Homo sapiens: one gene and its partners. The protein of the gene in region 1 interacts with the protein of each later gene in a biochemical or structural test. Each region holds a gene or a part of one and is shown in the gene's direction. Other genes may lie near its edges.

What was found.
Region 2: of the proteins of PRKD1 (region 1) and ARFIP1, one has a biochemical effect on the other in vitro, tested with the Homo sapiens proteins (one study listed by IntAct).
Region 3: the proteins of PRKD1 (region 1) and PPP1R14A form a complex in vitro, tested with the Homo sapiens proteins (one study listed by BioGRID).

The regions. Positions count from the first base shown.
Region 1 is NC_000014.9:29,917,811-29,924,933, reverse strand, and holds part of PRKD1 (serine/threonine-protein kinase D1), read left to right. Parts: intron 1-7,123.
Region 2 is NC_000004.12:152,908,851-152,912,877, forward strand, and holds the end of ARFIP1 (arfaptin-1), read left to right. Parts: intron 1-1,213; coding exon 1,214-1,369; 3' UTR 1,370-3,507; downstream 3,508-4,027. UniProt on the Homo sapiens protein: Plays a role in controlling biogenesis of secretory granules at the trans-Golgi network. Mechanistically, binds ARF-GTP at the neck of a growing secretory granule precursor and forms a protective scaffold.
Region 3 is NC_000019.10:38,250,717-38,253,477, reverse strand, and holds the end of PPP1R14A (protein phosphatase 1 regulatory subunit 14A), read left to right. Parts: intron 1-503; coding exon 504-584; intron 585-1,139; coding exon 1,140-1,172; intron 1,173-2,031; coding exon 2,032-2,160; 3' UTR 2,161-2,241; downstream 2,242-2,761. UniProt on the Homo sapiens protein: Inhibitor of PPP1CA. Has over 1000-fold higher inhibitory activity when phosphorylated, creating a molecular switch for regulating the phosphorylation status of PPP1CA substrates and smooth muscle contraction.

The DNA.
Region 1 (7,123 bases):
GTCATCTCTTTCAGAATATATTATTATCCCAGCAGAAACAAAATTAAGAGAGCTGAAGGTCCATCACAGGATACAGGATCTCTGTGTGTTGTGACAGTAGGAATGGCAGAGTGTCAGTGTGGAGTTAAGGAAGTGGGAGGGAGTTCTTTTGTCTTTTATTTCAGTTTTTTTTTGGAAGTACCTTATGAGGACGTCAGCTATGAGGAAGGATGACAGGAGTTTGGGGATTGGATGTTTCAGGAGAGAGCAGAGGGTTTGAAATCATTTACAATTTACTATGTGGGCTGAAGTCGTGTGGAACTTACAGCAGAAGGTTCTCCTGATCTTTCTGAGTCTTCCACATCTGTTGTTTTAAATGTGTTAAGAAGTTTTTCATTCACTTTGTTCAGGAGCTCCCTAAGTACTAACATAGATCATACGAGCATTGGAAATATTAGCTGACAGTTTCAGTAACATCACAGGACATTTCCTTTGGGATGAGCAACTGAGGTGTACAAGGCTGCATAAGTTTCCCTGAGAAACTCACCTGTAAATTATTATTGTTATTATTTAGAATTTAGAGTATAGTTGTTCTCTAATTATGTAGCAGACACGATTGTACTTGAAACATTGTGATGGTAATTCAACAAAAAATACTTATTTTAAGATAACGTACCCTAAGTATATACTGACTTATATAAGTAAAGAATTATTTCTTTCATCTTCTAGTTTAGGTGAAAAATCTAGTCTTGCTTTTTTGTATGTAACAATGTATGGCTATATAATATGTTATTCTTTCTTTTTAGAAAGTATTGATCCAGGGTTTTATTTACATTATGTTTGTTTATTTAGTTTGCAAGTGTGTGACGTTGAAGCCTGGTTGTATATAAAGATATGTATTCTGTTAGTGTACATGGTTATTGTTTTCAGGAGGGTAAAAAATAATAACAATCATTGACTTCACTTTGAAACACTGTTACTTTCTACTGTCAAAGAAACCTTGAATATGTAGACTGAGGAGGAATTGTTTTAAAGCAAGGAAAAAAATTCCAGAGGAAGAGCTAGTTTGGTTTCATAGTACATCATCTACTTATCTACCACACACACAAACACACACACATACTTTTTTTTTTTTTTTTTTTTTCCTCAAATGAGCTGTGTTACTCTTTAGGGATGCTTGATGCCATTAATATGATTGTTCATTTTGGTTATTACCTTATTAGAAAGGCAACTGATATTTTACTCTTAAATGTACTTAAATGGAGTAATAGCATTTATAAGACTCCTGGCATATAGTTTCACTTTTCAGAATCATCTTTTGGCTAAAGAAATTTAACAGTGAGATTTTAAGTAGATAGCTCACTAAAGAAGTAAGGTTAGTGCCTTGGTTTGAAAGTAGCATTACTTTGCTTGTAATTGTTTCACTTTAATTGTATTATACATTGTTTTCTTAATAGTTGTGATGTCATTTTTCTCTTTATTACTAATTTTAGATACTCCACACATTCCACATAGATTGAGAAAGCCGAAAGTAATTAGGTGCTTGATCAATCCAACTCACCTGGACCAACAAACTCCTTTTAAACTAATGATGGTCTTTGGGGCTTAGGTGTATATATTTTTATTCCAATTTTATAATTGGCTATATTATATGTCTACTGATTTCTGATTTAATGATGAAGTATAGAATTTGTCATTTTACTGTGTGTTTTTTTTTTTTTTTTTTTGACAGAATCTCACTCTCTTGCCCAGGCTGGAGTGCAGTAGCACAATTACAGCTCACTGCAGTCTTGGCCTCCAGGCTTAAGTGATCCTCTCACCTCAGCCCCTTGAGTAGCTGGGTCTACAGGTATGGGTGACCATGCCTGGCTAATTTTTAAATTTTTTGTAGAGATGGTATTTTGCCATATTGCCCAGGCTGGTCTGGAACTCCTGGGATCAAGAGGTCCTCCTACCTCGGCCTCCCAAAGTGCTGGGATTTAAGGAATCCCACTGGGTGTGAGCCACTGGGCCTGGCCTATTAAGTGATTCTTAAGTAATATAATTTTAGTACTCTAATTTTATTTTTATTATTTTATTTTTTGAGATAAGGCCCAGACTACAAGTACAGTACATAATCATAGCTCACTGCAGCCTCAAAGTCTTGGCTAATGTGATCCTCCTGCCACAGCGTCCCAAGTGTTTGGGACTACAAGTGTGTGCCACCACATCTGACTAATTTTTATAATTTTTTTATACAGACAATGTCTCACTGTGTTGCCCAGGCTGTTATTGATTTCCTGGCCTCAAGCAATCCTCCCACCTCAGCCTTCCAAAGTGCTGGGATTGCAGGCATGAGCCACTGTGCCCTGCCTGTACTTTTAAAATTTAAATTTCTTTTCAAGTTTAATAATGTAACAGGATTATATTTTGGAACTGTATATTATGTATTACAGATGTGGAATTTATATGTAGTAGATTATGTTTAACTATTTTTTAAATATATTTTTAAGAGCTTCCTTATCCTTGTATAGCCTCCAGATGTGAAGTATTGTTTTATATTTTGTGTTATAGACTGCAAAAAATGAGGCCTCATCACATATCTCACAATCCCAAAGAGAAACTCTGCTTTACATTTTTCTTTTTTTCTTTACTTTTTCTTTTTTTTTTTTTTTGAGATGGAGTCTCGCTCTGTTGCCCAGGCTGGAGTGCAGTGGTGCAATCTCGGCTCACTGCAAACTCTGCCTCCTGGGTTCACAGCATTCTCCTGCCTCAGCCTTCCAAGTAGCTGGGACTACAGGCGCCTGCCACCATGCACTGCTATTTTTTTGTATTTTTAGTAGAGATGGGGTTTCACCGTGTTATCCAGGATGGTCTCGATCTCCTGACCTCGTAATCCGCCCGCCTTGGCCTCCCAAGAGAAACTCTGCTTTATATTTTTCTATCAATTCACAGACTTATAAACCTTTTTAAAACAGGTATGTACTATTTGACAGTTTTCACAAGAATATCCTGTGAGACTGTGAAGTTAAAACCATTAAGCCTTGTAGTCCATGGGCTGGGAAGAGTTGGATGATTGGCTCATTTGATAAATACATGAATTCATTTGGGCCTTTAGATTCAGAATTGAGATCAATCTGAAAGAGTAAAAGTACACTGTGTATGGTGGTGGTGGTGGTGGGGGTTACTGGAATAAGGTTTAAAAACTTGCCCCAGAAGACCATACTTCATGACTGTGCTGTTTATTTTCACCAGATTCCTATCATAGCTTTTATGGGAGATTTATAACTTTATTTTCTAATGATTATTACCTTTTTTTGTGAGATGATTGTATATAAGTCTTCACTAATTTATTCATGAATAACTGTTACTGACCTTACTAGAGAATGCAGAACATTTGTAAGTCAATGAATGTATATTTGTGACTTATCTAAGATTACTTTGAGATTTAAAGACAATATATGTAACATACATACTGCTTTGTAAATACGTGCATAATAAATGCTGTTGTTTACTAAAGCTTAAAGCTCTATAGACTAGCATACTGTCTTATTAACAAAAGAAATTTATATTTATTATCTTATTCTTATATCAATATATAATTAAAATTATAATATTAAAAAAAGCAATATGGCTGTAAGGCCCAGGTGACATCTTTTTCCTGCCCTCTGTATCAGGGCAAATCTTAGAAGTAGTTATGTTTTGAAACAGTTTCTCAAATCTCAAACTCTCAGCATTCTTTAAGGACTAATCTAATTATTACTAAATGAAAGACACATTTGCTGATAAAAGTAAAGCATATTTTCATTGCTTTTTATTATTTTTGACAGAAAGATGATTTAACTCCTTTTCAATTACAAGTGCAATGTCAATGGTATTTCACTTCATTTTTTAAAAAGGAAATAAAATAGATAAAGGTGCAACATTTGGGAACACAATGATTCAAAATTCTGGTTCTCAAGACCAAAATTTAAAGCTTATTTGCAGATCATCGCTTGATACATGAGAAGGAAGGTGCTTGGAAATGACGTAGGGAGATTGCAATTTGCTGTCATGCTAACATCTAGAGGTTGTTTGCTAAATTGTTCCATCTGATGATAGCTAATATAACATAATTGGTTGTGCATATGCAGAAATGTCATTTTGAGATGAGAAGGCAAATTTACTGGGAAACAATTGAGTTATCAGTTTGGCAAAACCAATCACAAGTCTTTTTTAGATATTCCCACTACCTACCACTTATCTGTCATGGAAGTCCATGCCCCATTATAAAACCTTTAGAAAACCACAATCTTTAATTATTTATAAATCTTTTAAAGAAGAGTGTAATGGATAATTATATGAAACTTTGTGTGTGTGTGTGTGTGTGTGTGTGTGTGTGTGTGTGTATTAGACTGGAATCATTGAATAAGCTCTCAAACTATACCAAATAACTAGTATAATGATCAATATTGCAGGGCTGGACTCAGACTGTTAGAACTTGGTAGAATGCAGTCTTATAGGTGTTGATGGTAACATGAAGTTTCCTTCCTTGCTTTGTTTTTATATTTGTTTGCTTTGATTTATGTATCAGGGTAATCTTTGACCTCTGACCTTGCGCCATCACCTTGTTTAAGGTGAAAAATCTAAACCCAAATGTGGCAATAGAGGTAAAAATATAGGGTGTTTTTTAATAATAAAAGATACTACTCATCTTTTAATTTCCCCAGCATTACTTTAGAGTGATTTTGAAAATGAGACTTCAATTTCTTAAATCTTTCCTTATTGTTGGAATATGTTGGAACAAAACAAGACAAGTGCTTCCTTCCTTCCTTGTTTCCTTCCTTCCTTTTCTTTTCTTCTCTCTTTTCTTTTCTTTCTCCCCTTTCTTCCTTTTCTCTTTTCTTTTCTCCTTCCTTCCTTCCTTCTTTCCTTCCTTCCTTCCTTCCTTCCTTCCTTCCTTCCTTCCTTCCTTCCTTCCCTCCTTCCTTCCTACCTTCCTTCCTCTCTTTCTCTCTCTCTCTCTCTCTTTCTCAGGGTCTCACTTTAGTCACTCAGGCTGGAGTGCAGTGGCACCGTCTGAGCTCACTGCAGCCTCAACTTCCCAAGCTCAGGTGATTCTCCCACCTCAGCCTCCCGAGTAGCTGAGACTACAGATATGTGCCACCACGCCTGGATGATTTTCTGTATTTTTAGTAGAGACAGAGTTTTGCCATGTTGCCAGGATGGTCTTGAACTCCTGTGCTCAAGTGATGACCCACCTGCTTCGGCCTTCCAAAGTGCTAGGATTATAGGTATGAGCCACTGCGCTCAGCCTCATTTCCCTCTTTCTATTGATAGAATTTAGATACAAAGAAAATGGTGATTTTCCTTACAACTATTCAAAACATTTTTTAATCTATAAGAATATGAGATATTTCCCACAGGAATTCTTTTAATACTGTCAACCAAATATTTTTGTGCCATTAAAAACCAGTTGTGATAGCACCACTTGAAGTTATTTGGCAGCAGAGAAATTCACGTTGTTCTGTTTCTTACTTTTTCTGGTCTCATCTAGAAAAACAGATCATTAAATATACAGAGTGTTCAATTATATGGCCACTATGGCTGTTATGGAATATCATATAATTTAAATAGTTAAGAACTGGTACAAAAACAATGCATATTCAGACAAATTTCGGCTGTCTAAATCTACAGTTTCCTGTGTAGAAGTTTCTTCCAAAGTTATGAAAGGTTTTATTTGGCTTAAGCCAGACAATTGATATAGTAGCTTAGCAATGTTGGCAAACATGAAACTTAGATTTTAAAATATGCAATCACACAGGAATTTTGTTCAACTTATTTTGGTGAAAAGGAAAAAAATATACACCCTTCACTAGTTCATTGGCATCTATTCTGACTAAACCACTGATTGATGAGGAACTAGTGAATGTATTGCTTGTTTTTAGGCACAATTTCAGGAATTTCTGAATGCTTCTCTCCTTAATTGTCAGCAGCCACTTTTCCCCGCATATATTATAAAACAGTTGAAAAGTATTAATTTAGTAATGAAAATATGAATGAAAAGTATGAATGTGCATAATATATGGTGTTGTTGATAATTAGTTTGATTTTTTCCTACACTCAGTGTTCTTACAGTTAGGTGATTCTCTCAACCTGAGCAATTGCTCAGTGTAGGGTGAAAAGATTAAAGAGATTGCTTATTTGCAGTTATGTAAATATCCACAGTAATCATGAACATTTTTATTTTTCAGTTTGTTTGATTCCATAGCAATTCTGGTTAGGAGTGGCATGTTATACAGGCTTTTGCAAAAGTATTGACATTATTTCACACAATGTCTTGTACAGTCAGAGAGATTGGGGAGGAGAGGACTGAAGGGGCAGTTAAAAACTAGAAATAAAGAGTCAAGTGGTAAATTGAAAAGGCCAGAAAAGTGGAACATTAGATTAAAGGGTCACCACTTGTGTTACGGCAAGTATTTCAGCTACTGTGAGCAGGTGAACATTGAGATCTAATGGTTAGCACCATCTGAAAATATATTCAGAAGCTTCCTAATCAAATTGTACATATGGTACATATTTTTGGTGTCATTGGGGTCATAATAAGTGTTTTTCTTTTACATTTTTGTAAATTACTATTTGATATTTTCATAGTTCTGACTGTTTGAATTACCTGTCTCACGTTGAGTTCCCTTTGTAACACTGCAGGTGATCCTACAAGATTCTTTCTCCCTCCCCAGCATTATTAAGGTATAATTTACTAATAAAAATTATATATACTATGATATATAATGTTTTGGTACATGTATACATTGTGCAGTGATTAAATCAAGCTAATTAACATGTCCATCATCTCACAGACTTATCTTTTCTTGTGTGTGTGGTGAGAACATTTAAAATCTACAATCAGGCAATATATTTCCTGCTTTGAAAAAATCAATTTTGGGGTACTAGGCTTAGTACCTGGGTGACAAAATAATCTGTACAGCCCCCCCATGACACAAGTTTACCTATGTAACAAAACCGTACATGTACCCCAGAAACTAAAATAAAAGTTAAAAAAATCTATTTTTTACTTAAAAAATTATCTACAGGTATGTAGATTTGCTATAATCATACTCTTCAGTTCATAGCACATTTTTTTCATCAGTCCAAGTAAGGATCCTATTGCGTTATGTTTTATTTT
Region 2 (4,027 bases), on another chromosome or scaffold:
GCTCAGTTTTGGAAATCATTTTCAGAAATGGCTAGAGAGAAGTGTGTGTGTGTGTGTGTGTGTGTGTGTGTGTGTGTGTGTGTGTGTGTGTAATATAGTGAAACAAATTTTCTATCCTGTTTTTTCATTTAGCATCGTGTTTCAAATATTTTTACATCATTTATTATTAAAGTTCAATTTTAATGAATGTCATATTGGATGGGAATCAGAATTCTTATTTAACATTTTGCAGTTGTAAATAAGACCTCAGATGTCCGGGCTTGGTGGCTTACGCCTGTAATCCCAGCACTTTGGGAGGCTGAGGCAGGCAGATCACCTGAGGTCAGGAGTTTGAGACCAGCCTGGCCAACATGGTGAAACCCCATCTCTACCAAAAATACAAAAATTAGCTGGGCATGGTGGTGCACACTTGTAATCCCAGCTACTCGGGAGGCCAAGACATGAGAATCACTTGAACCCTGGAGGCAGAGGTTGCAGTGAGCCAAGATTGTGCCACTGCATAACAGCCTGGGTGACAGAGCAAGACTCTGTCTCAAAAAACAAAACAAAACAAAAGAAAAACAACCTCAGGAAACAGTTTATAAATCTTTTTGATGCATTGTTTATTTCTTTAAGAAAGACTTATAGAGGTAGTATGACTTGGTTAAAATATACTCTTGATATCAGCAGAAGTAATAAGCAGTTGAAAATAATTGAGAGTCATATGAGCGTTAAGTAAATTGATTTTCTGAGCAACACTTGCTACTTGCTTGATTCTTTACAAAGAAAGTCAATATTTAAAAGTATCCAGCCTACTTGGCTTACATAAAGCTTAGATTTAATGATGTCCATATTTACTATTCATACATTGTGTAGCAATTATATATAATTTTCCCTTTTTGATATCTCACATGATTTTGAATGTACTTAGTTTGAGGAGGATTTAATGATATTTTTAATTAATCCTCTCAATAATGTTTGAAAATGGTTAATAGGGTATATATTTGGGCATCTTAAAACTGACCTATTCTCTTTAGGGTAATTAAAAAGTCATCAAAGGTTCAGTGACCCTGCAAGGCAGTGTACACTTGGTATGTGTGAAATACTTGGTCATTATTAAGCCAGCTTTTCTTCAAGAGAGATACACTATTTAATTAAGGAATGTAATAAATCACTCTCTATTTTATTGTTATTGGTGTTAATGCTTGGTCTTGTAACTCTGCCCTGTCCACAGGTTAAAGTATTGCACAATCAGCTGGTCCTTTTCCACAATGCCATTGCCGCTTACTTTGCTGGGAATCAGAAGCAGCTTGAACAGACACTTAAACAGTTCCATATCAAATTGAAAACCCCTGGAGTGGATGCCCCATCTTGGCTTGAAGAACAGTAAAATCACAGCGGAAAATAAAAAGAAAGTCGCGTTGTTATATTTCTAAACCAACCTAACAAGAATTAAGCAGAGTTGGGGGAAGTGGGAGGGGTGACAAGCATTATAGTGATTCTTGCACAAACAGCTTTAATTTTTCCCTTTTTCATACTTTAACAATTGAACTGTTAAGGGTGGTTTTAATGTAAACATAGTTTCTATAATCTGAACACAATAATTTTCCTTTTTGAGAAATCCTTTTGTATTGTGAGGGTTGATGGCTATTTCTGTAGTTTGAAAACATCTAATAGAGATTTGCACTGACAAGATAAAAATTCAAGGTTTTTGGTCCTGGAAATGAGGGCCGATTGTAACTTTTCCAAAGGGAGGTTTACATGATTTGTATCAACATCAGATATTTTATATGTGAATATATTAAACATCTTTAAGAGATTCATTTTCATGTATTAAAGAAAAAAGAAACTATTTTGCAGAGTAAAGTTATATGGTGTTCCTGCAGCGTCCACACAGAGGCAGCAGCTCTAATGAATGATTAGCTTGTGGAGTTGTGGCAAATACCTTTTTAAAAATGAATCTGTACCACTGTAATTTTATTTAGACTTTTTTTTAAAGACACAGAAATCACACTGTCATTTCTGTGAGGCTTTTAAGCTTATGAATTTGCTTCACCCGAAGTCATTGGACAGTTACATTTGCAATTTCTTTTGGTTCATAACAAAACCTGCTTAAGAGAATTTTTTTTTTTGACAGGTGGACGTGGGAATGGAAATTCTTAATGGTTTCTGGAGTAGAAATCTGTACTTAGAAAACTAGTTTTTGGGTCAGTTCCATTTTGATAGAAGTGAATACATAGACAGCTTTTATTGACTTCCATATGTAACAATACCGTTTAAGCCTTAAATCACAGATATGTGCCTTCTCAGATACAGTAATTCTTGTTCAACCAATGTACAAAATCCATAAAGAAACCCCTGTTGGATAATGTTTGATGTGTCTATTCCTTCCATGGAATGGAGCACTATGTATGAATGTTGGGTTTCTTTGTACTTGTTAAGCCACATTTGAGGTTTATGGTAAAAATCATCTTTTGAGTTTGCTCTTTGGTTTTTCTTCATTCCTTTTGAGGATTGGGAAAACAGAAAGATTCTTTGATTTGGGTAATGAAGAGGTAATTTGGGACAGTGTGGTGGTACCAGGAAGAAAGAGGATTGGAAAGGCCAGTACTGTTTTAGTTGCTCGGCACTGTTGGTTTTGTTTTAATGTGGTTGCCCTGTCCACTACATGGTTCTATCAGTAGTGTAATCCATTTTCAATGTAAAGCTCTTTTAGTTTTTGTCATAGACATAAATTAATATTTTGAGAGGCATCCCTCACCTGTTCATTTCTTCTGTGTTGAAATGAAGTACTTAAAATTACCGTTATACATGAACTTTGTGGACTGTAAGATTTGTTATATATGTTCAAATGCCTTTTAGCTGGCTTTTTAATTAATATGCCTGTTTTGAGTGCTTAATACAATGTAATGTGATTGTAAATCATACCTATTTTAAATCATTCCTTCCTGTATATTTGTACTCAGAGAGCCTTATTTTATTCTTCCAGCAGAATTACTACTTGTGATAGTTCATTTACATTCCCCAGAATGTGCCTCTAGTGTGAATTTTGTATTCTTATTAAACGTGTTTGCTGCAGTAAATCGTTTCTCTGGACCTTCATAGTTTAAGAAGTAACTATTTGGAAATTCTGAAGACACATAATTTGCGTTTTCTGAACCTTAAAAAAAAAGGTACTTCTGTCACTTATAATTGTTTTAGCTCAGTAAGCTATTTTTTTTCAATGTGAATCTCTTTTGAGAGCTGAACATGTCCATTCTTAACCACATTTCAATAACAGTTACTGTAGCTAAGGAGCTAAATAGTTTCATGGATTAATTTTTTTCAGAATAAATTTAAAATATCCATGATTCTGATAGTGGGCACATGACCAAAAGAAAAAAGTAAATCAATATATTTAGCCAATGGTACATTTACTTTGTTAGGAATGTAATTTATGTTCATTATAGAAAAGAATTAGAAGAAAATTTCAAGTAATAGAAGATAAGTACCTTCCCAAGTGAATAAATACTGCATGGAACCACTCAACACCTCTGAAGTTGGATATTTTAGTTTTGGATTTTAATATACAAGCTCTATTTTGAATATCCTTTAATATACATTTACATCTTTGCACTTTTACTTACTTACTCCCTTAGGTTATAGTCCTAGAAGTGAAAATGGGCCCTCAAAAGTATATACATACTTCTAAAACTTTGTAATATATTGCCTGTTTGCTTTCAAGAAAGACTGTGCCAATTTACACCTCTAAGAGCATACACATGTACCTGTTTAGTATATTTTTTAAGCCAGTGCTGTATATATAAAATGAAATAATGAAAGAGAAAAACAGGAAGATAAAGGCTGAACAATCACCAACTGGAGAGTTTGGGGATGCTGGGTGTGAGAGCAGGGAATGGATGAAAATGGCTGGCTTTTCTGTCATTAAAATAGAAGTTGTTATTCTAGAAAAAATAATGCACTGAGGAACTGGTCTGTGAAATTAAACTTTTCATCCCAAAGCTTCCAAATCTTAGGGTCCAGGAACTATCTGGGTTTGCAAAAGCAA
Region 3 (2,761 bases), on another chromosome or scaffold:
GCCCTCTGGGGGCTGGCCCAAGCCGTCCCCTCCCTTCCTGTCCCCTCCCTTCCTGTCCCCTGGGGGAAGGGGCCGCCCCAGCTGGCTGCTGGCTGCCAGCCTCTCCTCCCCTGCACCTAGTGCTAAGACTTTTCCTTGAAAGGGCAGAAGCCAGCTCCTCTCCCGAATCCCAGAATCTGACATTCCAGGACTCCACTAGGCCTGTTTTCCTCTGTGGGAACTAGAGCCAAGGCGAGAGACCCGTGCCAGCCCCGAGGCTCCCGGGGCCCATGGGCCCAGGCATCGGGCTGGTACAGGGCCCCGGGGCTCTCTCAGCCCATCTGTCACCCCTCCCCCCCAACACCCAGATGTCCCGTCTTGGCAGTGCTGTCCCGGACTGCCACATTAATGCTCCAGAACCCGCCAGCTGGGCCCTGGGGCCGGTGGGGCTCCTGCAGAGCCCTGGACAAAGGCGAGGGAGGGAGGGAAGGGGATCCTAAGCACCCCTCCCTCCCTGGCCCTAGGAGGCAGACATGCCCGATGAGATCAACATTGATGAATTGTTGGAGTTAGAGAGTGAAGAGGAGAGAAGCCGGAAAATCCAGGTAGGTGGGGGGACGTGTCCCCCAGCCTCCCACTTTGCACCTCCCTAAAAATAATAGCAATAGTTCACGTGTTTACTGAGTGCTCACTAGATGCCGGGCACTGGTGTGATGGCTTTACATGTATTCACTCACTTAACCCTCACAAAACCCTCCGAAGCAGGCGCTAGTGTGAGCTCCATTTTCCCCATGAGGAAAATGAGGCCCAGAGAGGTTGAATCCCTTGCCCAGTGTCACACAGCTCAGAAGGAGCAGAGCTGGGCATCGAACCCAGGCAGTTTGGCAGCCATGTCTTTGCTTATGGCTTATACCTTTTTAGAGGAGGGAAGTGCTGTGTGACCCTCTCGCCCTCTCTGGATCTAGTAACTCACCCCTGCCCTGAGTCGATCCACATGCCCCTTGGGCTCTGTTCCTCTCTTGAAGCTTGGTGGGCAGTCCACCCTGGAGTCTGACTTCCATTTGTCTTGCTGCTGGGGCCTTTTGGGAAAGGGAAGGGGCTGGAGGGGAGTAGGTGTTAGTCATTTACTGTTTTGTTTTGTTCTTGGTTGGGGGTTTTAGGGACTCCTGAAGTCATGTGGGAAACCTGTCGAGGTGAGTTTTCTCTCCCTCATTCTCTCCCTGTTCTGGCCCCAAGTACTCTGATGGGGGAGGGGGAAGAAGCTGGCAGAAGGGTCTCTGGGGAACACCACCCGGCCCCACCACCCCCGGCCCCAACCTGCCCTCCGCAGCTCTTTCTGGTCTCCAGGGGTGTCTTTTGTCCTCCTACTTGTCTCTCTCCCTCTCTCCCCCATCTGCTGAGGGGGCTCCATTCTGTCCTCCCCCATCTGCCCTGTTTTTGCCTCTCCTGTGCCTGTCCTTTGGCCACCAGCCTTCGGGCTCAGTCTCCCTCTGTCCTCCCCTGTCACTGCCTCCGCCACCCCGGGCTCCCTTCCCCACCTCTGGGGGCCCTCCATCCTCCCAGGCCCTGAAGCTGAGCGGCCCAACCCCTCCCACTTCCTTCCCTGCTTTAAAAGGGAAAACTATTCATGTTTCTCCAACTAGCTCTAGGGACAAACGTCATTGCATTTCTGTTCGCCCTGGATCTATCTCTGGGGACCTGTCTCCACATGTCTCTGTTTCTTTCTCTGTCCTTATGTCTCTCTCTGTCTCTATCTCTACATGTCTCTCTGTTTCTGTGTCTGTTTCTCCCCCTCCCCCACTCCGTATCTGTCTCCTTGGATCTCTATCTCTCTTCCTAGCTCTTTCTCTCCATCCCTCCCATCGCCCTTTCCCCATCTCTGTCTTTCTCCCGGCTCACTTTTCTCTCTATGTCTATAGCCTCCGCCCCTAACTCCCCCCACCCCACAATCAGAGAACAGGAGGAGGCGCCCAGGTCAGGGACTGGGCTGGACAGGGGCAGAGGGTGCCCCCGCACTGTTCCCATGTTCTCAGCTCCCCCACCCTGTCTCAGGACTTCATCCAGGAGCTGCTGGCAAAGCTTCAAGGCCTCCACAGGCAGCCCGGCCTCCGCCAGCCAAGCCCCTCCCACGACGGCAGCCTCAGCCCCCTCCAGGACCGGGCCCGGACTGCTCACCCCTGACCCTCTTGCACTCTCCCTGCCCCCCGGACGCCGCCCAGCTTGCTTGTGTATAAGTTGTATTTAATGGTTCTGTAACAATAACACTGTGTGGCTGTTTTTCCTCCCCCCGGGTTACCATGGGCTTCCCCGAGCTCCCCCCACAACCTCCCTCTCTCCTCCTGTGGCCTCTGCTCATGTCCCTGTCCCAGCACTGCAGCTGGGCCTGCCAGATGGAGAATCACTCCTCCCGGGCCAGAAAGCATGAGAACGGGCCCTGCTGAGCCCACGCCCTTGGGATTTATATCCTAGACCTTGCCTTCCCTTGAACTCCCCACCCCACCCCCATCCCCAGTCCCAGCAAGCAGGGCCCCTATATGCAGGCTCCTGCAGGAATCTGGGTCAAGGGGCATGCTCATGACCAAAGGTGACCGATATTGACTCAGTACAGGTGATCACACAGCAAACAAATCATTCAGCCACTCCATGAAATCTGCGCTGTGCTTATAATGGCCCTTGGTACTGAGGCTGCAAAGATGAGAGGAAGATGGTCTCTGGCATCAAGGTGCTCACACACTATGGGGGGAGAAGGGCCTGAGTGTGAGAATCAGAACAAAGTGTGCTG